7 linked regions of the Homo sapiens genome follow. The protein of the gene in region 1 purifies or fractionates together with the protein of each later gene. This does not show direct contact. Each region holds a gene or a part of one and is shown on either strand. Other genes may lie near its edges. The genes, in order: ZNF174, ATF7IP, PI4K2B, SKAP2, DDX11, PUS7 and EML4.

Region 1 (4,167 bases):
ATACATTGTTCTGCCAAAGGCTTTCCTGGTAAGGAGATCCCAGTAGTAGTAGGGGTCTAAGAGGACCACCCCACCTTCATTCCCTAACAAGTTCTATTTTCCGAAGTACCTGCCGTTTGCTTCTTGCCTAGGTCCTGACTGGGGTCTGACTTCGGGGCGGGGAGTGGCAAGCAATGGCAACGCTGGCCAGTTGAACTGTAACTTCCTGATCCAAAGACAATAAGCTAGTCAGGCATTGTGTGGCTCACTCCTGTAATCCCAGCACTTTGGGAGGTCAAGACGGGCGGATCGCCTGGGCCCAAGAAGAGTTCAAGACCAGCCTGGGCAATGTGGAGAAACCCTGTCTCTACAAAAGTACAAAAATTAGCCACGCATGGTGGCATGTACCTGCAGTCCCAGCTACTTGAGAGGCTGAGGTGTGAGGAACACTTGAGCTGGACATGGAGGTTGCAGCGAGCTGAGATCGTGCCACTGCCCTCCAGCCTCAGCAACACAGTGAGACCCAGTCTCAAAAAAAAAAAAAAAAATCAAAGACAAAAAGCTAGGCCAGGTGTGGTGGCTCACGCCTGTAATCCCAGCACTTTGAGAGGCCAAGGCGGGAGGATCACTTGAGGTCAGGAGTTCGAGACTAGCCTGGCCAACATAGTGAAACCCCCTCTCTACTAAAAAGTACAAAAATTAGCTGGGCGTGGTGGCAGGCACCTGTAAACCCAGCTACTCAGGAGGCTGAGACCTGAGAATCGCTTGAACCTGGGGTGCAGAGGTTGCAGTGGGCTGAAATGGCACCACTGCACTCCAGCTTGGGAAACACAGCAAGACTCCATCTCAAAAAAAAAAAAAAAAAAAAAAAAAAAAAAAAAAAAAGACTATAAGCTAAACACTGGAAAGACAATAAGCTAGAACTTCCAATGAAATGAAGTTCCCCAAAGTCCAACTGCTACCCAACAGGGTGACCCTATCTGCTAAGAATTCTGCTAGTAGGAAAACTAAGTTGGGTGGGGGAAGAGCTGACAGAAGGGATTTAAGAACCTTACAATTACTTCTGGTGACACAAGGTGCATAAAGGAATGGTAAGAACCTTGGTCCTCTGTTGCCTCACTGGGTATCAGTAGTTGGATTTTCTAAAAACCTGTTAATAACTCAGGATAGGTTCCCAGATAGAGGCTGGAAGCAACTTCTGAAGCCATCCAGTCCACTTCTGAGACTTAAATAGGGAGAGATCCAGATACCAAACATTACCCAGATGAAAAAGAAATCGGCCGGGCACGGTGGCTCACACCTGTAGTCCCAGCACTTTGGGAGGCCGAGGCGGGCGGATCACGAGGTCAGGAGATCGAGACCATCCTGGCTAACACGGTGAAACCCTGTCTCTACTAAAAATACAAAAAATTAGCCGGGCGCGGTGGCGGGCGCCTGTAGTCCCAGCTACTCGGGAGGCTGAGGCAGGAGAATGGCGTGAACCCGGGAGGCGGAGCTTGCAGTGAGCCGAGATAGCGCCACTGCACTCGGGCCTGGGCGAAAGAGCAAGATTCCGTCTCAAAAAAAGAAAAAAAAAAAAAAAGAAAAGAAAAAGAAATCCCCAGGATGATGGGAGAGGACCCTCCTTACCCACTGCTTTGGTTTCTTGGATGCTCTGTGAAAATCTTCCACGAGGGTCACAATCTCCTTGCTGCTCATTGGACATCGATGCCTGACCCGAGCCTGGATCTCCGGGGGCAGGATGGTCAGGAACTGCTCCATCACCAGAAGCTCCAAAATCTGCTCCTTGGTGTGCAGCTCGGGTTGCAACCACTGACGGCAGAGCTGTCGGAGCTGGGAGAGAGCCTCTTGGGGTCCAGACACCTCTTGATAACAAAAGCGTCTGAAGCTCTGGCGGCAGAGCTCAGGATCTGGGCAGTTTTTTTGCAGAGGAGGGCCCCGTTTCTCTTCTAGTTTGGCTATTATGTGTCTCTCTTGCTTGGAGGAAGCTTCAGTGTTGGAGCTTAAAGTTATCTCCATTTTAGCTGCCATTTTGGGCGTCAGGAGACAACTCTCTCCTTGTAAACGGGTTAAGCCTTTGGGATCATGACCCTGGAGAAGTCTCTGAATACTAGAAAGATTCTAGAAACGAAGGTTCTCTGAGGATGTTAGGGGGAACGGGATGCAGAGACAAAGCCTCACTTGCTAGCCTTTACTAGCCAAACTCAAGACAACGCGGTCCCTGGGAGTGGGAAGAGTTTTGTCTTCTTGTCAGTTTTTTGCAGTCTTGCAAAGGAGAAAAGTCATAACGTCCTAAAAGGACTCTGGGGAAAAAATACTTCTTTTATTTCAGTAGCAAGCACACAGGTCTCGGATTTAATGAGCAATACGCTCTAACCGGCGGGTGGAGCGGAATCCCTAGGAAAAGTTCAAGCTGTCGCAGGTAGCTTGCCCCAACTCTCCCGCATCCTGGCGGAAACCGACCGGGTGCATGTCGCCGGGTGCTAAACGGTAGAGCTAAGCGAGGCCACAGCGCCAGCCGGGGGTGTGAGGTAGCGAACAGCCTCCTGCACGCGAGCAAAGCGGCTGCTCGCTGCCGAGGCGCCGCAGGCCCAGTGGCTCCGGCCTCCAGGGCGGCCCCGCGGCCCAGCCAGCCCCAGGCCTGGCGAAGCTGCCGCAACCCGATGCGCAGCTGAACTCCACGCCCGGTGTGAGCTCGGACTGGCGACTGCGACACCGGTACCCCGAACAGCCCGGCGCCCCGCACCCACCTGCAGCCGACTCACCTCTCCGGGAACCCAAGACCGAGGGACTTAGGACCCGACACCGGCGAGCACGGGCTGGGGGCGGGGCCGATGCCACTCGCTGCGGAGACGCCCACTAGCTGCTGAGGACAACTACTGACAGGGCCCGCCTCCTGCCAAGGGCATTCTCTACCGTCTATTGGTTGCTGCGCCTGTCAATACCGTCGCAGTGCATCCCGGGAGCTGCAGTCCGGCAATTCGGCTTGCGGGCCTGCGCAGGGGCGTGCGTAATGGGCGGAGCGAATCGCGCCGCTGACTTCCGGCCCGGAGGCTGAGGGAGTTTGTGGAGTCGCGAGTGCTGGTGTCCGGTGAGTTCTCCGCTTCCTTGCGGCCGGCGGGATTAGCCGCTGGGCCCTGCGACGGCCGAGGAGCCCCTCCCCGCTGGGAGTCTTCTCCGAGGCGTTCGGGTCCGGCCCCGATGGGCGTCTCCTTGGGACAGGCAGCCTCCCTCAGGCCGGGCGTCCCCAGACGCGCCGCGATCACCGTGCCCCGCTCCCACCGTGCGGATCACCCCGAGCCTGAGCGCCGGCGCCCCGGGACCCCCTGGCCTTGACCCTGCTCATCTCGTCCCTGTCTCGCCCACTCCCTACTCATCCACAGTGCCTAGCCCTGGCACCGAGTGCGTTCTGAGTACTCAATAAATAGTTAACTAAGTGAAAAACCTATCAACCTGGCTCCCCATCCTCATGCTACATTTTTTTCCGAGTGTTTGGGCCATCGCTAGAGTGAAGTAAAATTTTCAGAGAACAGCATTTTAAAATTTAACGATGAGTGGGAGGTAAGGGGTCAAAAGGGGTCAAGAAGGGTGCAGGTTCCGCCTTCTGCATGAAGTTAGAAGAGCTTTTATTAAATTCTTCTTCAGCCAGGTAAGGCACAGGATGAACATAATGAAGGCAAGGGGTGCTGGTTCTAGTCCTGGCCTTGCTGCCTAGGAGCTGTGCTGTGTGATGCTTTAGGCAAGATACTTCATCGCTCTCAGTTTCTTTTTGGCTAGAAAGCAGTGCTAACAATAATAATGCCCTTGATTTCTCTATCTCTAGAAGCACTGAAATGTAAAGAGAATTTAAGTGAAGGCAGTTCAAGTTCCTTGAGAAAAGGGAACCCAAATCCATTTTTAAAATATAAAAAAATTTCTTTAATTTTTAAAAAACATTTACCATCATAACCATTTTTAAGTGTACAGCTCAGTAGTCCTGAGTATATTCATCTTGTTGTGCATGCTGGATCCATTTTAATACCACATGGTGAGGGTGTATCAGCCCCTGGAGAAAATGTAAATTACGATCTGCTTTAATCTGTGTTTTAAGTAGATAAAAACCAACACAAACTCATTAAAAAAGACTGCCTTCGCGGGTGCAGTGGCTCACACCTGTAATCCCAGCACTTTGGGAGGCCAAGGTGGGAG
Region 2 (3,500 bases), on another chromosome or scaffold:
CAAATCTGATAAAGGTTATCTACCAAGAAAACTAGAGATATCATGTCTGATATTGAAATAGGATCAGAAGAAAACAAGGATGTTTCCTGTAACCATTTCCTTGTTAACATCTGGCCAGTGCAATAAAGGCAAACAAAAGAGCACAAGGATGTGGTTCTGAAGAAAAACAATGTCATCAATCAATAGTAGAATAAAACAAAATTGCTTTAAGGACTAAGATGTACAGGAGGCAGGAATACTGTTTTCACATTGGATAGTCACTTACCATTACCATCACCAGTAGGAATGATATGGTAGAATACATTTGCTTTGGCCTGAGAAAGAAAGAAAAGCAGCCCCTGATGCCTGGAAACTTAACTGATACTCACAGTTAGGGCTCAATGTTGTTAATGGATCTGATGCTTACAGTTAAGCCATGCTGTTCTCTGGTTGGACATAAAACCAACTCAGAGAACATTCAAGTCAGACAAGGTCACTGTGCAACCCACAAAATTCCAAACATCCCCCCTCACTAAATGAGTGATGGCTATTTCTTTATTTTTTTTTTCTTTTTGAGACGGAGTCTCGCTCTGTCGCCCAGGCTGGAGTGCAGTGGCGTGATCTCGGCTCACCGCAAGCTCCACCTCCTGGGTGCATGCCATTCTCCTACCTCAGCCTTCCGAGTAGCTGGGACCACAGGCGCCCGCCACCACGCCCGGCTAATTTTTTGTATTTTTAGTAGAGATGAGGTTTTACCGTGTTAGCCAGGATGGTCTTGATCTTCTGACCTCGTGATCCACCTGCCTCGGCCTCCCAAAGTGCTGGGATTACAGGTGTGAGCCACCACACCAGGCCAACTTCTTTATCAATTACAGCTTTATCTTGTAATAGTCTGTCCTCCCTATATAGATAAAATTTATTGAGATACCCAAGAATAGAAGTGCCCCCACTTTCTGATGTCACCCAATCCACGATAAGGATCTACTTCCTTAATCTCTCCCCAAAATAACCCAACCTATACTATACTCAAATCCTATACTAGGTTTTTTCTAACATCCTCTTACTGATTGATGTGCCTTACAGTTTCCCCATAGTGAACATTATTTCCTCCCTGCAGCAAATAGTAAACCTAACTTTTTCAATTACAAAGGTGTTCCTGCTGGTCTTTGGCTGAAGCGCATAAAATAATAAGCCTAGCCTACTTGCTGGAAGCCAATTCAGCTTGAGATTCTAGCACTTTGTCAGAGAATTTCTAGACTGTGATACATTCTGTATTCATTCTCTCACTTTAAGCCAATTACTTAGAACATATTTCTTATTCTAGCCATTTTATTTAAATTATATAACTAAATCAACTATTTAGAAAAATTACTCTTCATTTAAACAGAAACCTTAATACAAAATGTATATATAATAATACAAAACCTTAATACAAAATTATACAAAATTTGTATAATATAATACAAAACATTATGTTAAGGGTTTTTAATTACAGACTAAAATTTCACACCTTCAAGGTTTTTCCCTTCCCATCATTACAAAGTTTTGCTAACTGCAAAATTTTCTGCAAAAGATACAGATACAATGCATTGTATTTTGCTGTCACTTTTCCTTACTAATTCCAAAACTACAAAATAATTAAGTTTATAATATAAGTAGTATAGTTACCCTTTAAGTATTTCAAAATACTGAAAGGCCATTCTTTTGAACTTTAGCCTCATAATATCCGCATTTCTCAGATATTAGATGGACAGCTGGTAGTTATTACCAATTGCATTAAAAGTATTCCTTTTAAAAAATTCATAACTTTTAATAACCCAATTAAGAACATGAACTCTTACATTAAAAGTAAGCATTCCTTTAAAAAAATTCATCACTTTTAATAACCCAATTAAGAACATGAACTCTGTAGACTGTAGACAGATTCACAGATTTGAATTCCAACTCTCCCAGGAAACCTACTGTGTGAGACTGGGCAAATTACCTAACATCAATTTCTTAGTTTTGGTTACCTTAAAAAGGGACTAATACCAACACCTGTCACAAAGGTTGCCATGAGAACTAAATGAGATTCTATACATTAAGCACTTGGAATGTAGTAAGAACTCAATAAATGGTATAACCATCACCATCTATATATTCAGGATAACGTTTTTAGGAATAAACTAAATATTCAGGATAATGTTTTTAGGAATAAACTAAAGAGTCTAAGACAAATTCCTCTTTGGTATTTTTTATATAAATTAGAAAATCCAACATGTAAACCTCACAGTTAATATTAAATTGCCACCACCAAATAATATTTAATAAAAATATATAATTCAAGAAAAGTTGATTTTATCAATAAAATTGTCATTAACTTCAGTAATAATAAAGCACTCTAAAAAGAATTATAGAATAACTACCATCCATACCCACAAGGGAGCACACTACAGCCATTTACCAGATCTTATGGGTTCTAAATATAATAAAAAACAGACAAAGCAATAAGGAAGTAACACGAACAATTAGTTCAAACTAGTTCAGCCATATCTGTACAAACCAATCAGCAGTCTGCTTTTAGAAATGTATTTTGCATTAGCGAAGCATATTTGAGAAAGATACACATTAGAGAAGGGTGTGTTACCTGCAAACAAGTTTCCATGGCTGTAATACCAGTGCAAAACACTTCCAAGGATCATTTTAGTACTGTCGCCTAGAACTAAGATGCCATTCATAAAACTATTCTATAAAATAAATGTTAGTATTTTAGGTGGCAACTCAAATCAGAAAGCTTTCACATGACTGTAATTCATTTTCACAGAAAAAAGCATTGGTATTTTACGGCAGAAGATGTCTGCCATGTCTAAAAGTAACTGCAAAACATGATGAACTAGTTTCTCCTGAAAGTATTTTTTTCATGAGGATGAGAGTCAAAATAATGTTTTTTAAGTCTCTGTATATTCAAGAACTCTGGGAAAATAATATCACTAATAAAACCTTTTTCTATAGAAATTTATATTTAAATAACCAGAGAAGGGTATGTTACCTGCAAATAAGTCTCTCTGGCTTGGAAATTTTTTTTTCAAATTTTTGGTAAATTATTTTTAAAATATTTTTAAGGAAAGCCCAACGAGCTTCTTCTTTAAATGAAAACATTACTCTCTTCTCTGCTTCATCCCCCTCCACCCACTTCTTTCTAGCAAGAGATCATAGCAATGAAACAACAAAGGGAAGCTGTTATGTCTTAGCCTACAATCTGCCTGCTCAAAAAGCTCAAGAATTTAAATGGCTGTTCAAGAGCTGCTCACAAACTCAGCCAATCAGCAGCCAGCATTCTGATTCCTGCCCAGCAACAGGAGACAGACAATAAGGTCAGAAAAACATAGTTAAACAAAAACTGTATCTGCAATACTTAAGTGTGGTTCTTTGTTTGAAATAAGTAATCTAGAACACAGTTTACATAAAACCCTAAATCCACGTAACACGCATTAAATATACCACACACATAAATGGATAAGATTTACATCTTTTATGCTATT
Region 3 (3,500 bases), on another chromosome or scaffold:
CTTAGATCAAATCCTGGCCTTTAATGAGAAGAATGTGACTTTAGATGCAGCCCAAGAGTTTGGAGATACCTGGTGTCTTAGTCAAGTAAATGATAGAATGACAGCCGAAGAAAGGGACAAATTCCCTACCAGTCAGCAAGCCATCCCCAGTATGGATCCCCACTGGGACCTTGACCAGATCATGGGGACTGGAGTCGTAAACATCTGTCGACCTGTGTTCTAGAAAGACTGAGAATTAGAAAAAAGCCCATGAATTATTCAATGATGTCCACCATAACTCAGGGAAAGGAAGAAAATCCTTCTGCCTTCCTCGAGCGGCTACGAGAGGCCTTAAGAAAATATACTCCCCAGTCACCTGAATCACTCGAGGGTCAATTGATTCTAAAAGATAATTATTACCCAATCAGCCACAGATATCAGGAGAAAGCTCCAAAAGCAAGGCCTGGGCCCTGAACAAAATCTAGAGGCATTATTAAACCTGGCAACCTCGGTGTTCTATAATAGGGACCAAAAGGAACGGGCCCAAAAGGAAAAGCAAGATCAGAGAAAGGCCGCAGCCTTAGTCATGGCCCTCAGACAAACAAACCTTGGTGGTTCAGAGAGGACAGAAAATGGAGCAGGCCAATCACCCGGTAGGGCTTGTTATCAGTGTGGTTTACTAGGATGCTTTAAAAAAGATTGTCCAATGAGAAACAAGCTGCCCCCTCATCCATGTCCACTATGCCGAAGCAATCACTGGAAGGTGCACTGCCCCAGAGGACGAAGGTTCCCTGGGTCAGAAGCCCCCAACCAGATGATCCAACAACAGGACTGAGGGTGCCCGGGGCAAGCGCCAGCTCATGTCATCACCCTCACTGAGCCCTGGGTATGTTTAACTATTGAGGGCCAGGAAATTGACTTCATCCTGGACACGGGCGCGGCCTTCTCAGTGTTAATCTCCTGTCCTGGACGACTGTCCTCAAGGTCCACTACCATCTGAGGAATCCTGGGACAGCCTGTAACCAGGTATTTCTCCCACCTCCTCAGTTGTAATTGGGAGACTTTGCTCTTTTCACATGCATTTCTTGTTATGCCTGAAAGTCCCACACCCTTATTAGGGAGGGATATATTAGCCAAGGCTGGAGCTGTTATCTGCATGAATATAGGGAACAAGTTACCCATTTGTTGTCCCCTACTTGAGGAGGGAATCAACCCTGAAGTCTGGGCATTGGAAGGACACTTTCGAAGGGCAAAAAATGCCCAGCCAGTCCAAATCAGGTTAAAAGATCCCACCACTTTTCCTTACCAAAGGCAATATCTGGTAAGGCCTAAAACTCATAAAGGATTACAGAATATTGTTAAACATTTGAAAGCTCAAGGCTTAGTAAGGAAATGCAGCAGTCCCTGCAACACCCCAATTCTGGGAGTACAAAAACTGAATGGTCAGTGGAGACTAGTGCAAGATCTTAGACTCATCAATGAGGCAGTAATTCCTCTATATCCAGTGGTACCCAACCCCAATACCCTGCTCTCTCAAATACCGGAGGAAGCAGAATGGTTCACGGTTCTGGACCTCAAGTATGCCTTCTTCTGTATTCCCCTGCACTCTGACTCCCAGTTCCTCTTTGCCTTTGAGGATCCCACAGACCACAAGTCCCAACTTACGTGGAAGGTCTTGCCCCAGGGGTTTAGGGATAGCCCTCATCTGTTTAGTCAGGCACTGGCCCAAGGTCTAGGCCACTTCTCAAGTCCAGGCACTCTGGTCCTTCAATATGTGGATGATTTACTTTTGGCTGCCAGTTTGGAAGCCTCATGCCAGCAGGCTACTCTAGATCTCTTGAACTTTCTAGCTAATCAAGGGTACAAGGTGTCTAGGTCGAAGGCCCAGCTTTGCCTACAGCAGGTCAAATATCTAGGCCTAATCTTAGCCAGAGGGACCAGGGCCCTCAGCAAGGAACGAATACAGCCTATACTGGCTTATCCTCACCCTAAGACATTAAAACAGTTAAGTGGGTTCCTTGGAATTACCGGCTTTTGCTGACTATGCATCCCTGGATACAGCGAGATAGCCAGGCCCCTCTATACTCTAAACAAGGAAACCCAGAGGGCAAATACTCATCTAGTAGAATGGGAACCAGAGGCAGAAACAGCCTTCAAAACCTTAAAGCAGGCCCTAGTACAAGCTCCAGCTTTAAGCCTTCCCACAGGACAAAACTTCTCTTTATACGTCACAGAGGGAGCCGAGATAGCTCTTGGAGTCCTTACTCAGACTCCTGGGACAACCCCACAACCAGTGGCATACCTAAGTAAGGAAACTGATGTAGTAGCAAAAGGCTGGCCTCACTGTTTAAGTGTAGTTGCAGCAGTGGCCGTCTTGGTGTCAGAAACTATCAAAATCATACAAGGAAAGGATCTCACTGTCTGGACTACTCATGATGTAAATGGCATACTAGGTGCCAAAGGAAGTTTATGGCTATCAGACAACCGCCTACTTAGATACCAGGTGCTACTCCTTGAGGGACCAGTGCTTCAAATACGCACATGCATGGCCCTCAACCCTGCCACTTTTCTCCCAGAGGATGGGGAACCAATCGAGCATGACTGCCAACAAATTATAGTCCAGATTTATGCCACCCAAGATGATCTCTTAGAAGTCCCCTTAACTAATCCTGACCTTAACCTATATACCGATGGAAGTTCATTTGTGGAGAATGGGATACGAAGGGCAGGTTACACCATAGTTAGTGATGTAACCATACTTGAAAGTAAGCCTCTTCCCCCAGGGACCAGTGTCCAGTTAGCAGAACTAGTGGCACTTACCAGAGCCTTAGAACTGGGAAAGGGAAAAAGAATAAATGTGTATACAGATAGCATGTATGCTTATCTAATCCTACATGCCCATGCTGCAATGTGGAAAGAAAGGGAGTTCCTAACCTCCGGGGGAACCCCCACTAAATACCACAAGGAAATTATAGAGTTATTGCATGCAGTGCAAAAAACCCAAGGGGGTGGCAGTCTTACACTGCCAAAGCCATCAAAAAGGGGAAGAAGAGGGGAGAACAGCAGCATAAGTGGCTGGCAGAGGCAGGGAAAGACCAGTAGGAAGGAAAGAGACAGGAAGTCAAAGAAAGAGACAGAGAGGAAGAGACAGAGAGACAGAAACAGAGAGACAAAGAGAAGGAGACAGAGAGAGGAAGAAACAGAGAGTCAAAGAGAAAGTGACAAAGAGAAGGAGTCAGAAAGAAAGAGGGACAGACACAAAGTCAGAGAGTCAGAAAGAGAGGAAGAGACAAAGAAATCAAAGAGAAAGAAAGAGAGATGGAAGTAGTAAAGAAAAACAGCATACCCTATTCCTTTAAAAGCCAGGGTAAATTTCTGTCTACCCAGCCAAGGCATATTCTTGTTATGTGGAACATCGACCAATATCTGCCTCCCCACTAACTGGACTGGCACCTGCACCTTAGTCTTTCTAAGTCCCAACATTACCATTGCCCCAGGAAATCAGACCCTATCAGTACCCC
Region 4 (3,500 bases), on another chromosome or scaffold:
GTTGATCCCATAAGTATGGCAGCCCCATAGCTACTTTACTTTATTCCCTTTAGCTGTGTTGGTTTGTTGTTGTTTGGTTTTTTGTCTCTTGGAAAAGAAGATACAAATTAGTCACACAATGTTAGAGCTCAGAGGAATCTTAGAAATCATATTAATTAACTTTTTCTTTTACAGTAAGGAAATGGCCTTACATTTTCCCCTCTTTATTGCAGATCACAGCTTTCTGGGATTTGAATGGCAGAAACGGTGGTGTGCTCTCAGTAAAACGGTATTCTATTATTATGGAAGTGATAAAGGTAATGTTGGTGTTCAATTATATCAACTACTATTGCAAAAGAATTTTTGGCCATCCCTTCCCCCTCTTTTGAGTACAGAGTAAACTGAAGACAAACTAATAATAACTGAGAATTATAACAATTATAATCTGACTAATTTATGATTCATTTCATTATTTGACAAATGCTCCAAATACCAGAATACCCTCAGAGCTAAAACAATTGTGTTGTATTGAATTAGAAAAGAGAGTAAAATAACTTTAATCTGTGTGGCCTTTCACCTTAGGGAATATTTATTATCCAGCCTACTGTTGTAGAATTTCTGGAAAAGTTAAGAACATAGGGTTGTGAGAGTTTCAATGGCAGAAAATAGATTATTTTTCTTAAATATTTTAAAATAAAATTAGATAAAATTAAATACGAACAGCACCTTTCTGAGCTCCCTTTACAGATTTAAGGAATAACAGCAAACGTGTACATAGAATTTACTATATACTGGGCACCGTTCTAAGCACTTTGTCTAAGTACGTTAGCTATGTTAACTTGTTTAGCTCACAACAACTCTGTAAGTACTATTATTAGCACCATTAATTTGACTTTTAGGAAAACTGAGAACAGAGAGGTTAAGTGACTTGTTCAAGGTCACAGAGTTGGAAAATGGCAGATCTAGGAATTTGTTTTTCCTTTGTTTTTAGAAACAGGGTCTTGTCTCGGTGCCTAGGCTGGAGAGCTGTGACTGTTCACAGGTGTAGTCATCACACCCTGCAGCCTCAAACTCCTGGGCTCAAGTGATCTTCCTGTCTCAGTCTCCCAGGTAGCTGGGATTACAGGTGCACACCGCTGTACCCAGCTCAAATTTGGGATTTTAACCTAGAGAATATGGTTAGAGTCCATGTTCTCAACCACTATTGTCACTACATTAATTTAGAAATAATAGGATACATTTTATAACTTCATTGTTAATTAATAAATCTCTCAGTTGTAGTTCACATAATTTTAAGATTGTTATTTGAACAAATAAAGCCACCAAATAATGAAATTTAAAGATTGTAAGCTTTCTGAGTTTTGTTTTATTCTGGGGAAAACAGGCTAGGAGTTGAATATTATAAAGTAAAGGTTGTATCAAAATAGATAATGTTCATTTCCAGAAAGGACACTTTAAGAAGAAAAAGGCAAAAGTATCACTGAATGTAAGCTTTCCTATGGAATTGTTATCAGTGTTGTTTGGAAATTTATGTTTTATTTGACATTATTTATAGTTTTTAGAGTTTTTTCCCCCATTCTAAAAACATACAGGTAAGATTGTCATATTTCAGATAAGTCTGAAATACTTACATAATGCTGGAAGTTGTTCTTACCTTTTGGCTAATGAGATTAACAAATTAATTAATTTAGTAGCTAGTTTGCATTCCATCACTAATTTACAGTATGTTCAGATGTAGTAATGGCATCAGTGAAGTGTAAACTGTAAACAGCTATAAACAAGCATCTTTCTTCTGCTAAGGGTCAGTAGTGAAGTAGGTCAGAAAATTTAGAGTCCAAGTTCAGTTACGATTATCACAGATCATAGAAATATAGTTTTGTATGATATTGTGAATTTAGATCGAGATACTACCTTCCACAAAATATCCTCTTTTTCACCAGACCAGGGGAGGGAGGTTTCAGATCCTTGTGACTTTGATTCAATTAGGCTTCTCATTTCTAATTTCTTTAAGAATCAATGAATACTAATGTCAGTGTTTCCTCCATTTCTAGTCCTGACTGGCATATAACAATGGTTAGGTCAAAGATTAGCAAGAGTTTCCCCAAAACCCAAAGCGTGTTAATATTTACTTCAAACACTAATATATTCAATGAAAACATTTTAGTTAGAGTTATTTAGATATTAGTTACATTCCTTTTTTTTTTTTTCTTTTTAGAGATGCGGGGGCCTCACTCTGTCACCCAAGCTGGAGTGCAGTGGTGCCATCATAGCTTACTGCAATCTTGAATTCCTGAGTTCATTTTTATTCTTATTTGATGAGACCTAATGGTAGTAACATTGTTTGTAATTTGCATTTTAACTACTTTGTGATCCATTTAGCCCTTTCTGTCATTTCTGTTACTGGAAGGGGGTCTTGATCCAGACCCCAGGAGAGGGTTCTTGGATCTCATGCAAGAAAGAATTTGAGGCCAATCCGTAGAGGGAAGTGAAAGCAAGTTTATTAAGAAAGTAAAGAAACAAAAGAATCACTACTCCATAGGCAAAGCAGAGCATAGGCTGCTCAGCTGCTTACACTTATTGTTACTTCTTGATTATATGCTAAACAGGCAGTGGATTATTCATGAGTTTTCCTGAACTGGGGTTGGCAATTCTCAGAACTGAGGGTTTCTCCCCCTTTTTAAGCCATATAGGGTAACTTCCTGATGTTGCCATGGCATTTGTAAACTATCATGGCACTGGTAGGAGTGTCTTTTAGCATGCTAATGCGTTATAATTAGCATATAATGAGCAGTGAGGAAAACCAAAGGTCATTTTCATCACCATCTTGATTTTGGTGGGTTTTGGCCAGTTGCTTTCCTGCATCCTTTTATCAGCAAGGTCTTTGTGATCTGTACCTTGTGCCAACCTCCTATCTCATCATGTGACTAAGAATGCCTAACCTCCTGGGAATGCAGCCCCCATAGGTCAAAGCCTTATTTTACTCAGCCCCTATTCAAGACGGAGTTGCTCTGGTTTAAAAGCCTCTGACACTTCCACTTTAAAAAAATTACCATTTTAGCATTCCTTTTTCATGTTGATGTCTGAAGATGTGGCTTGTGTTTCCTTAAATTTTTCCCTTTTACTTTGCAGCCTCCTGTTTCCAGTGAAATTTTAGATTTGTTTCTTGTGGTTCTTTTTTCTATTGGCGGTTTCATTCGAAATTTTTAGCCAGTTCCTCTCTTTTAAGGGACTCCAAAAAAAGATCTGTCTTTAGACAGTTTTTAATTACTTGTTTGGCATGATCCCGATTTCCTTCCTTTATATCTTTTTCTTACCAGGAAAATATGTCAAATAATTTTTTTCTTTTGTGAAATTAGATATGATTTTTTATAGCCTTGTTTACTGTATGTGTGAACCATTTACCTAATGGGAAGAACTCATATCTAGCTATATGAGAACTATAATCCTCCAACTAAGTAGGATTTAGATAAATGGATTATAGAGGCACAGAAGGAGTTGACACCACTTACTAGGTTAAACTG
Region 5 (3,500 bases), on another chromosome or scaffold:
ACCTCCCACCGATCTGTTTTTCCAGGCAGCCTCAGTCAGAGCACCCTGAAGTTTTTGCTCCTGAATCCAGCTGTGCACTTTGCCCAAGTGGTGAAGGAATGCCGGGCAGTGGTCATTGCGGGGGGTACCATGCAGCCGGTAAGGACACCTTTCCCAGCCCCTCGTGCCCCAGGTGTTGGGATGAGATGGGGGCTTGGGAGAGATGCATTATCAGTCCTGTTCTCTCCTGGGGCCCCAAGCCAGAAAGGGTCAGCTCGAGCAGGCCCAGTGGTGTCCGCTGGGTGACACTGCTATTCTCTCACTGCTGTGCCTTTTAGGCTGCAGGAGCAGTGGAGACTCCTCTGCTGCTCCATTCTGTAGCCCCAGGATCACATGTCTCCCAGAGAAAGCTGTTCTGTGGTTTCAAACTCAAGGAAAAAAATCATGATTCCACTTTTAAAAGGTTCATTTTGATGTATATGAATATAATAGTCTTTGTAGGCGTAATTTTTACTTATGTGCATAGCTGTTTTAAAAACAAAAGTACGGCTCCCTCCATGTGCTGTCACTGGAACTTGCTCTTTTCACTCAGCAGCCAGAGGGTCATAAACCCTGTCTCCTTGTCAGCAAGCATGCACGTATTTCAGTATCCCAGCTGTGCTGGATTCCAGTTACACAGATATATAGCATTTCATGTAGCTGCTTCTCTCTTGTTAGGTGTGCAAGCTATTTGCAGTTTTCTGTTTTGAGCATGACTGTGATAAATATAACCGCATTTCTGCACAGTGGTGACTCCTACCTAGCGAAGGGCCTCCTGGACAAAAAGCTGCTGGGAATCCTGAAGCAGTGCTTCCCAGCCCCAGCTGCCTTAGCTTTTGATTTTTATATTTTTGTATGGATAGATTCATAGTTTTATTCATTCGGCATATTAAAAGTTGTTTACAGTAATTATTGTTTCTGACGTTCACATTGTGAGAGCCCCTTCCTGCTAGCTCAGGTCCTCCCCGTGGCCCGGTCAGTCTCGCCTCCAGCACAGCAGAATGTCATGGGATCACCATGGGTGTCCTTTCCCCACACTGGATTGATTCATTTCTCCAAGCTGCTCTGGTTTCTTGTAATGGGGAATGACATTTAGAAGTCAAGCTGTGGGTGCTAGGGTGTTTGTCGTGCTCCTGGGGCGTTTTGGTAGACAGATCTAGGAAATGTTTTCAGAATGAATCCATACTGGTATTTCTTTCTTTCTTTCTTTTTTTTTTTTTTTTTTTTTGAGACACAGTCTCGCTCTGTCTCCCAGGCTGGAGCGCAGTGACCTGATCACGGCTCTCTGCAACCTCTGCCTCCGGGGTTCAAGCGATTCTCATGCCTCAACCTCCTGAGTAGCTGTGATTACAGGCATGTGCCACCACACCCAGCTAATTTTTGTATTTTAGTAGAGATGGGGTTTTACCATGTTGGCCAGGCTGGTCTTGAAATCAGGTGATCCGCCAGCCTTGGCATCCCAAAGAGCTGGGATTACAGGCATGAGCCACCACGCCTGGCCCATATTGGTGTTTCTAAGTAAAAATCAAAGGATTTGTTTACTTGACCTTTTATTGTACCTCTTTTTCTCTTAAGCCTGAACATGTGTGCTACATTAACATACTTATCTGCTCTATCCTATAATATACTTAAAAGTTTTGAAATCATAGTACCAATATTACTTCTAACAATAGATCTGATTGAAATTGCCTTTCCTCTTTGCCTTTAGAGTGTAACCCACTAAGGATGCCTGGTCACTAGGCTCTAAAGTCACGTGGAACCAGGCTTCTCTCCGTGTGCTTCTGTTGTCAGTTTCATAGATAACTAGGCTGTTTTTGTTTCATTTTCTTTTCAATTTTAGAATTTGCTTTTTTCTTTTCTGACTTGTAGTTTTTAAATATGTAAATATTTGTATGGCTCAAAAGTCAAAGCAATATAAAAAGATCTATTCAGGAAAGCCTCACTCTCATCCCTTTCCAGCCCATTCCCCACCCCCATAGGGAATCCGTTTTACTAGCTTATCCTTTCAGTCTTTCTTTTTCCCCTAAATAAGCAAAAACGTGTCTTCATTTTTCCCTTTCCTGTTTTATTTACACAGAAGGCATCTTAGTCAGTTGTCTGACCATCGCTCCTCTAGTGGGCTGCGTGGTTCTCTGTTGGACAGATGTAGGGAGCTTATCCAACCAGTACCCTCTGGATAGGCAGGCGCATGATTACAGGGAAAGGTCCGGGGGCACATGCTGTTTGGTATTTGTGGGCTGTATCTTCTCACTGGACTCCTAAATATGGGATTCCTGGGTTAAAAAGTATAAATATGTTTAATTTGTTAACTACTGTGAAATTTCATGAGAATTGTACCATTCTGTATCCCACCAGTACTGTCTAGGAATGCCTGTTTCTCCAGAGTGGTTACTTTTGGATTTTTGCCAGTCTAACAGGTGAAAGCCTGGAGATTCTTATTCAGTAGTTTGGGCTGGGGCCTGGCCATGTGTATTTTTGAAAATTTTCGCTGGTGATTTTGCTGCATGGCCAGGGTTGATAATGACTGTGCCAGATTTGCTGGATTTCCTTTGCTGTTCCTGCACATAGTTTAAACGAGACTGCCAGCACTGGGTATCAGTCACCATTTTTCTTTTTGTTAGTTTGCCATCAGCCTTTTCTTTGACCTCTTCTTTCAGTTTGTGTGTACTTGCTGTCTCTTAGCCCAGACTTCTCGCTTCCTTTCTGCTGGGCCTCTGAGGGGTCATGGGGCCGTGACGCTGTGGCCTTGGTCTACAGGTGTCTGACTTCCGGCAGCAGCTGCTGGCCTGTGCCGGGGTGGAAGCTGAGCGCGTGGTGGAGTTTTCCTGTGGTGAGAAGCTGTGCCCAGGGTGGGGCAGGCTAGAGGTCAGGTTCTGGCCCCCGTTTTCTGTGGGTAATACCTCATACTGCGACCAGGCACAGGGGCGGAGGAGACCCCGGGGTGGGAGCCTCACCCTTCGTGCGCTCGCCCAGGCTCTCCTGCTTTGCTCCCTGCTGCCTGCTGCCCAGTGTGACTGGTGATGGTGGGCGGGTGAGCGCTGTCAGTCGCTGTTCCTGTGCTGGATGATGGGGCAGGGAAATGCCCTCTCTGCAGTGTCTTGCAGCACACCTGCATCTCCAGTTTTCGGCCCCTCCCTGGCTCTTACCAGGTCACGTGATCCCTCCAGACAACATCCTGCCCCTCGTCATCTGCAGCGGGATCTCCAACCAGCCGCTGGAATTCACGTTCCAGAAAAGAGAGCTGCCTCAGATGGTCAGTCCCAGCCAGCTCGCCGCACCACAGCCTGGCCTCAGGCAGCAAAGGGTTTTCTGGGGCAGGGGCGCTCTGGCCCACCCTGAGTGTTTTCAGTGTTGGGGAAATTGCACAGGGACACCCGCTTAGAGCCACACAGAATGAGCGGCGTCGATCTAGATGCTTATGGAGGAAGGTCTGAGCTTCCCCGCCCCTCACGCCTTAGGCTGCGAAATATGTATTCATAAAA
Region 6 (3,500 bases), on another chromosome or scaffold:
GGATTACAGGTGTGAGCCACCGTGCCCGGCGAACAAAAGCTTTAACAACAAAATTTACTATTCTACTTAGTAGCTGAGCTCTCCTTTTCTTCAATAGCAGAATTGACCCACGATGAGCAAATAAATGCTCCCCTACTTCCTTTCCCCATTTCCTCCCCTTCCCAGAGTCCCAACTGAGGCCAAGAAGCTGCTGAAGCCAGAATCTGACCTGGGTCACATACCTGACAGACAGCAAATGGTGGTCCTGTTACAACGGACATTGTGGTATAATTGGTACTCTGGGATTCTAAACAACATATGTCGCTGTTCATTTGTGGTCCCTAAATTTTTTTTTCAGAGATGATGTCTCACTATGTTGTCCAGGCTAGTCTCCAATTCCTGGGCTCAAGTAAACCTCTGGCTTCAGCCTTCGGAGTAGCTAGGACTTTGGAATAGCATGTAACACTGTACCCAAATAAAAATGTTTTTAAACAAAAATGTAACTTTGGGGGGGGCTATAGTTTATCTGGGATACTAGTTATCTGCCCCAGTAAAAAAATTTTTTAGTGTAATATCCTTTAGATCCAATAGAGCAAAAAGTCACCCTTTGTTAACCATTGTAATTTTTTCCATAAACACTTAACATCCACCCAAAAAGCAACTAAAACCCTAAATAATTTTTCATATATTTTTGCATTAGTTACCTCAATGGCAACACTGGTTTCCTTATTTTTGAACAGCTGGAGCTCTTCCAATCGCTGCTTTTCTTCAGCTGTCAAAACTGTAAATATGTCTTCTGAAGGGTCCTTTAAAATAACCATGAGAACTCACAATGAATCATACATAGAATTCAAGTTTAATAAAGCTCTATATTTCTAAATCTCTAGGAAATGCTATTTTTATACAGAAGGTGACATTTGCTAAAGAGCTACTTCTACCTCCTCATCCACTGGAATGGACAAGTCATTCAAATGGCTGATCCGTCCATCTTTTCCTATTTCATGAACAACGAAGTCGGAGTATCTGATGAAAGAAAACATGAACTTTCAGATAATTAACATCCTGTTTTCTATTAATTTTAAGATAAAGTTGATCAACAGCAAGCCTTACTATTATGCAAAACAAGGAATTTTAAAAAATCTTCAGTGCAAAATCACATGGAGTTAATTTTTTTTTTCTTTTTTTTTTTTGAGATGGAGCCTTGCTCTGTTGCCTAGGCTGGAGTGCAGTGGCTCGATCTCCACTCACTGCAACCTCCGCCTCCTGGGTCCAAGTGATTCTCCCGCCTCAGCCTCCCGAGTAGCTGGGATTACAGGCACGTGCCACCACGCCCAGCTAATTTTTGTATTTTTAGTAGAGACGGGGTTGCACCATTTTGGCCAGGCTGATCTTGAACTCCTGACCTCAAGTGATCTGCCCATCTTGGCCTCCCAAAGTGCTGGGATTACAGGCGTGAATCACCACATCCGGTCTTTTCTGGTTTCTTAATGAATGCTGAGCCATACCTTGGCTCAAGTTTTATATGAGAACTTAAAGAAAAGACCCTCTTAGCTTCTAGAATATTCTTCCAGAGAAATGCAAAAACAAAAGCTTATTAACATTACCCTATGACGATTCAGGCAGCCCACACTAAATTAAATCACAAAATATGCTATATGGTTAATTGAATCAGAACCCAGTAAGTCTACCATGAACTAGCCTGAAGCTTACCTTTATGTTAAATATTTTACATGCATTATTCAAAATCCTCAACAACCCCAATGTGGTAATATGATCCATTTAAAAATTTTATTTTATTACTATTATTTTTTTTGAGACAGAGTCTTGCTCTGTTGCCCAGGCTGGAGTGCAGTGGCTTGATCTTGGCTCACTGCAACCTCCGCCTCCTGGGTTCAAGTGATTCTCCTGCCTCAGCCTACCGAGTAGCTGGGATTACAGGCGCGTGCCACTACGCCAGGCTAATTTTTGTATTATTAGTAGAGACAGGGTTTCGCCATGTTGCCCAGGCTGGTCTCAAACTCCTGACCTCAAGTGATCTGCCCGCCTTGGCCTCCCAAAGTGCTGGGATCACAGGCGTTAGCCACCGTGTCTGGCCTGATCCATTTTTTAAATAAGGATGCTGAGGTTCAGAGAGGCTAAGTAACTACTAAGTAGCGAACTTCACACTGGGATCCACCTGGCTCCAAAGACTACCTTCTTCTAACATAGTTGTGGCACATTCAAATGAAAAAAGAGTTTAAGATTATAAAACAAACTCAGGAGAAAATCTGAAACCATTTAAATGAATTTATTCATTTACTTATTTTTTTGAGACAGAGTCTTGCTCTGTCACCCAGGCTGGAATGCAGTGGTGCAATCTCGGCTCACTGCAACCTCCACCTCCCAGGTTCAAGCTATTCTCCTGCCTCAGCCTCCCGAGTAGCTGGGATTACAGGTGCCCATCACCACGCCCAGCTAATTTTTGTATTTTTAGTATAGATGTGCTTTCACCATGTTGGCCAGGCTGGTCTCAAACTCCTGACCTCAAGTGATCCGCCAGCCTCGGCCTCCCAAAGTGCTGGGATAACAGGCGTAAGCCACTGTGCCTGGTGAATGAATTTATTTGAGGCATGATCATGCCACTGCATGCCAGCCTGGGTGACAGAGTGAGACCCTCTCTCAAAAAAAGGGAAAAAATTAATTAATTAAAATTTAAAAATCCAAGGCTATTTATTCAGGCAGGTTTCCTTCATCCTATTCCTTTTGATCAGTAGTATAAACAAGCCTTGGAGATGGAAAGCTAAGTGGAAGAATATAAAGCTAATTTCTTTCTAAAGAAGAAACCTAATACAATCAAAATAACTTTATTCATAAACTAAATGTACCTTTCTTTTAAGATTCCCGAGAACCCTTGATGAGAACTCACAAACTTGGTGATGCCTACGTCAGCCTCAGTGAGTCCATGCTTCATCATGTCTGCAAAACTCTCTGATTCCTCCTCCTCGCACTCCTCTGAAAGTCCATCTTCCTCCTCTTCTTCCTCATCTTCCAACTGAGCCTCAGAATTCTTTCCACCTTTCCCAGTACTGACAGTGTCAGGAGGCCGAGGCACGTCTTCACTGATGGACAGAAAGTCATTCTGTAGCCCATCTTGACCTTTGGTTAGACTGCATTCCGACAGCTTCTGTTTTTTTGTCTCTTCAACTGGGACTCCACTGTCATTATCTTCGACAACCAGTGCCCCACGTTTCAGCGACACACCAGTCATTTCTGTCATCTCCATCTTTAAGGCTCCAAGAAAACATTTAAGAAAACCTGTTAGGAAAGAGTAGAAAGTAACAATCACCTATATAAAAGCTGGTTTCAGGCCGGGCGCGGTGGCTCACACCTGTAATCCCAGCGTTTTGAGGGAGGTTAAGGCAGGCAGATCACTTGAGGTCAGGAGTTCAAGACCAGCCTGGCCAACATGGTGAAACCTCATCTCTACTAAATATTAGTTAGGCGTGGGTGGCAGGCGCCTATAGTCCCAGCTCTTGGGAGGC
Region 7 (3,500 bases), on another chromosome or scaffold:
AATAATTATTACTTTTCAGATATAATGAAGAAAGTGCAATACTTACTTGTCTGCAGTTTTGGTAACTTTTGGTATTAATTTGGGTGTTGAAGGTATTTTCGACAATTTATTACGGCTATCATCTGAATTTTCCCAAGAATTATGTGACTTTTCAGCTGGTGATGGTCGTTTTATGCTAGAAGGAACATTAATTTCTTAGAGAAAAATTCTGAGTATCAAAGACATGTAACTGACAATTTAAACAGAACACAAAAGCAGCAATTAACATTTCCTTAAAGCTAATCCAGAAAAGAGAAGGATTAGTTGAAAGACTGCCTGGATGAGTGAAGGAGTTAAACAAGGCAATTCCCAAATCTGTATTATAATTTTCTGTATCACTCAGAAGATTCACTAGAACAAATATTACCTGATTTTTTTTAAAAAACACTTTTGTTAACAGAAAAAAATTATTTCCTTACATCTGAGTAATGTTTCTTATAATTTGTAGTTACAAAAAAACCTGTATTTTTTCATAGCCATTGAATTTTATAAGGCTGCCATTTTCATTTTTTGTGCAATTATGTCCTCAGGTAATTACATTACATATGGTACAAATGACAATTTCTAAATATAACAAGGTATAAACTCTTGTTTATATCTTTAGGGACAATTTTACCAATGATCAGAAATAAACAAGACTTTATATAAGAATGTGGTTATTGGCAATCCTGATTCCCTATACTTATAAGTGAAATTTGTTTCTTTACAAATGATTTTTTCATTGCATTGCTAACTATCCTCAAACTCATCCAGTCTCCAATACTTCTTGCAACAGTATATCCAAAGAGCAATTTAGGAGGGCAAGCACATTTCCAGGAGACCTCAAGAAGCTGAAAAAAAGATGCTGGGACAAAGAAGATATCAAGTGAAATCAGAACCTTAAAGAGACTGATTATAAAAAGCCACCTTAAACCACACACAATCCAAAGTTATGTAACGTTAATAAGCTATATCCAAGAAAAACTCCACAGGAGACCAGGCAGATAAACTACAAACCATTTAGATTGGGTAAGAATCTGCATGAGACACACAGACAAAGCATTTTGTAAGTGGTAAACATGCATCGATCAAGTGAAGGGTATTTTGGTTTTCCCAATTTCCATTAGCGATTTGAGGCAAAATATTAAATTGATCAAATAAAAATTTAAATCTTTTAGGAATGGTTGTCATTTATTTTATTAAAATTCTAGCCAGTTCTGGAAATGGTTTAATAGTTTCCTAAGATTTCCAAGCAGAAGTACGATGATAAAATATGACTATTCCTAATCACAAGGCTTGAATAAGCATTTCTAAACAGGCAAATTTAATTAGATTGGTCTCAATATTTGATTAGGAGGCAGCTGTAGCACTGTACTCCCAGCATGCAGGTTTAGATTCTCAATTTAGGCTCACACACATTGTTAGAATATTTCTCCCTTTTCCCCTTCTCATAACTTTAAAATATTAATTATTACGGACACAGAAGCCCTCAAGCAAGCCTTTAGCATAGAAAAGACCAGGTGAAATGGATTCATTTCTCTACTCAAGCAAGAACTTATCCTCCCAAGACCCAAAACTGAAACTGAGATGCAGCCACAGTGAAGAGCCACTTGAGATGGGCCCTTGCAGGTTGAAGGTTGTAATGATGCCAAAATACAGTGAGGACAATTACATATGGCCATTTTCTATCCATGGCTATAAATTTATGCATAGTTACATACATATTTTAAAAGTATTCAAAAATGTGGTTAAGAAAATATTGTTTGGTTTTCGACTAGGTTATTCCTGCCTTCTTTTCATCAGATTGTTTATAACTTAGTTTTTTTTTTTTTTTTTTCCAGTTTTAACTGAGAAATTGTGACCTTAATTCTTTATTCCCCAATGGGCTATAAAGCATAAATTATAAGCAATGAAGAAGGGAAAAATAAAGCCACCAGCTTTTTCTCTCAGAATCCTTGGATAGCTAACTTTTTCCCAAGTCACAGAATTTAGGTATCATTACAACCATTCCCTAGCTCTGTACTTGGGGACAGTTAAAACCTTTTGGTGGGAGTAGCATTCTTGCTTTCTGGAGTTTGTCTGTGTATTTGGAGAGGTTGTGAAGAGGGCTGGGGAGAAGGTGATGCTCGAATTTGTGGACTTTGATCATTAGAATGAGATTCCTCTTTTTTTTCTCTCTGTCCTTGTGGTTTTTCTTTCTTTTTTTCTGTACCACTGTAAAATAAAGTATAACATGGAACAATACACATTTAAACAAATGAAAAAAAATCAAACGATAGAAAAGTGATTATTATATAATTCAAAACCCTAAGTCATACAGCTAATACAATTTGCACTGTTTTCATTCAATAAGGACAATATTTCTTTGAAAATTCCAGAAGCTATTAACATCTTCAGTAAAGAATTTATAAAAATTCTAAGGCGATACACCCCATGAAGATTGCCCCTTTAGACAGAAATGGTCTCTAATAAACTTTGCCATCTTGGCAGATTTTGGGGGACAAATGAAGGTCTCTTAACTGACCTCAAGTTACCCAAATCAGAGGACTATCTGTGTAAAGCATACCGACTGATGCCAAAAGAACACTAAATATTCATGTTTAATAGGTTATTCTCCAATTCCTGTTTTTTTTCTGTATACTTCTACTCCACTCAATTGAGTTTTAAACTTACCAAGAGTTTAAGTTTTCCCCAAGTCTGTTTATGCCAGTTGTTATTTTAATTATGTAAGTTAATTAAATACAAAGAGAATTGCAATTTCTATGAAAACTAAGTTTAATGTTCTAGAAAGACTACAAAAAAAATGAGTTATCAAAAAAATTGCTGTTAAATTTAGTGTGAGTGACACAATTTAAAAAATCACAGAGGCGGCTGGGCGCACTGGCTCACGCCTGTAATCCAAGCACTTTGGGAGGGCGAGGCAAGTATCACCTGAGGTCAGGAATTCAAGACCAGCCCAGGCAACATGGTGAAACCCCGTTTCTACTAAAAATACAAAAATTAGCTTGGCGCAGTGGCATGTGCCTGTAATCCCAGCTACTCGGGAGGCTGAGGCAGGAGAATCACTTGAGCCAGGGAGGCGGAGTTTGCAGTGAGCGGAGATTGCACCATTGCACTCCAGCCTGGATGACAGTGCGAGACTCCATCTCAAAAAACAAACAAATCACAGAGCCCGGGTGTGGTGGCTCACACCTGTAATCCCAGTACTTTGCGAGGCCAAGGCAGGAGGATTACTTGAGCCCAGGAGTTCAAGACCAGCCTGGGCAACAAAGTGAGACTCTGTCTCTTTAAAAAAAAAAAAAATTGGCCAGGCACAGTGGCTCACGCCTGTAATCCCAGCACTCTGGGAGGCCGAGGTGGGTGGATCACGAGGTTAGGAGATCAAGACCATCCTGCCTAACATGGTGAAATCCCGTCTCTACTAACAAATACAAAAAATTAGCTGGGTGTGGTGGTGGGCGCCTGTAGCCCCAGCTACTTGG

The links.
Region 2: the proteins of ZNF174 (region 1) and ATF7IP purify together in Homo sapiens (affinity purification with mass spectrometry; one large-scale study listed by BioGRID and IntAct). This does not show direct contact.
Region 3: the proteins of ZNF174 (region 1) and PI4K2B purify together in Homo sapiens (affinity purification with mass spectrometry; one large-scale study listed by BioGRID and IntAct). This does not show direct contact.
Region 4: the proteins of ZNF174 (region 1) and SKAP2 purify together in Homo sapiens (affinity purification with mass spectrometry; one large-scale study listed by BioGRID and IntAct). This does not show direct contact.
Region 5: the proteins of ZNF174 (region 1) and DDX11 purify together in Homo sapiens (affinity purification with mass spectrometry; one large-scale study listed by BioGRID and IntAct). This does not show direct contact.
Region 6: the proteins of ZNF174 (region 1) and PUS7 purify together in Homo sapiens (affinity purification with mass spectrometry; one large-scale study listed by BioGRID and IntAct). This does not show direct contact.
Region 7: the proteins of ZNF174 (region 1) and EML4 purify together in Homo sapiens (affinity purification with mass spectrometry; one large-scale study listed by BioGRID and IntAct). This does not show direct contact.

What each region holds. Positions count from the first base shown.
Region 1 is NC_000016.10:3,399,848-3,404,014, reverse strand, and holds the start of ZNF174 (zinc finger protein 174), read right to left. Parts: upstream 2,801-4,167; 5' UTR 2,011-2,800; coding exon 1,609-2,010; intron 1-1,608. UniProt on the Homo sapiens protein: Transcriptional repressor.
Region 2 is NC_000012.12:14,417,682-14,421,181, reverse strand, and holds part of ATF7IP (activating transcription factor 7-interacting protein 1), read right to left. Parts: intron 3,215-3,500; exon of another isoform or gene 2,606-3,214; intron 1,969-2,605; exon of another isoform or gene 1,821-1,968; intron 1-1,820. UniProt on the Homo sapiens protein: Recruiter that couples transcriptional factors to general transcription apparatus and thereby modulates transcription regulation and chromatin formation. Can both act as an activator or a repressor depending on the context.
Region 3 is NC_000004.12:25,240,533-25,244,032, reverse strand, and holds part of PI4K2B (phosphatidylinositol 4-kinase type 2-beta), read right to left. Parts: intron 1-3,500. UniProt on the Homo sapiens protein: Together with PI4K2A and the type III PI4Ks (PIK4CA and PIK4CB) it contributes to the overall PI4-kinase activity of the cell. This contribution may be especially significant in plasma membrane, endosomal and Golgi compartments.
Region 4 is NC_000007.14:26,735,591-26,739,090, reverse strand, and holds part of SKAP2 (src kinase-associated phosphoprotein 2), read left to right. Parts: intron 1-212; coding exon 213-296; intron 297-3,500. UniProt on the Homo sapiens protein: May be involved in B-cell and macrophage adhesion processes. In B-cells, may act by coupling the B-cell receptor (BCR) to integrin activation. May play a role in src signaling pathway.
Region 5 is NC_000012.12:31,097,860-31,101,359, forward strand, and holds part of DDX11 (ATP-dependent DNA helicase DDX11), read left to right. Parts: intron 1-25; coding exon 26-138; intron 139-317; coding exon of another isoform or gene 318-442; intron 443-2,700; coding exon of another isoform or gene 2,701-2,736; exon of another isoform or gene 2,737-2,775; coding exon 2,776-2,848; intron 2,849-3,112; coding exon of another isoform or gene 3,113-3,167; coding exon 3,168-3,271; intron 3,272-3,500. UniProt on the Homo sapiens protein: DNA-dependent ATPase and ATP-dependent DNA helicase that participates in various functions in genomic stability, including DNA replication, DNA repair and heterochromatin organization as well as in ribosomal RNA synthesis.
Region 6 is NC_000007.14:105,505,272-105,508,771, forward strand, and holds part of PUS7 (pseudouridylate synthase 7 homolog), read right to left. Parts: intron 3,274-3,500; 5' UTR 3,242-3,273; coding exon 2,844-3,241; intron 1,003-2,843; coding exon 918-1,002; intron 786-917; coding exon 684-785; intron 1-683. UniProt on the Homo sapiens protein: Pseudouridylate synthase that catalyzes pseudouridylation of RNAs.
Region 7 is NC_000002.12:42,259,853-42,263,352, reverse strand, and holds part of EML4 (echinoderm microtubule-associated protein-like 4), read right to left. Parts: intron 2,233-3,500; coding exon 2,059-2,232; intron 176-2,058; coding exon 47-175; intron 1-46. UniProt on the Homo sapiens protein: Essential for the formation and stability of microtubules (MTs). Required for the organization of the mitotic spindle and for the proper attachment of kinetochores to MTs. Promotes the recruitment of NUDC to the mitotic spindle for mitotic progression.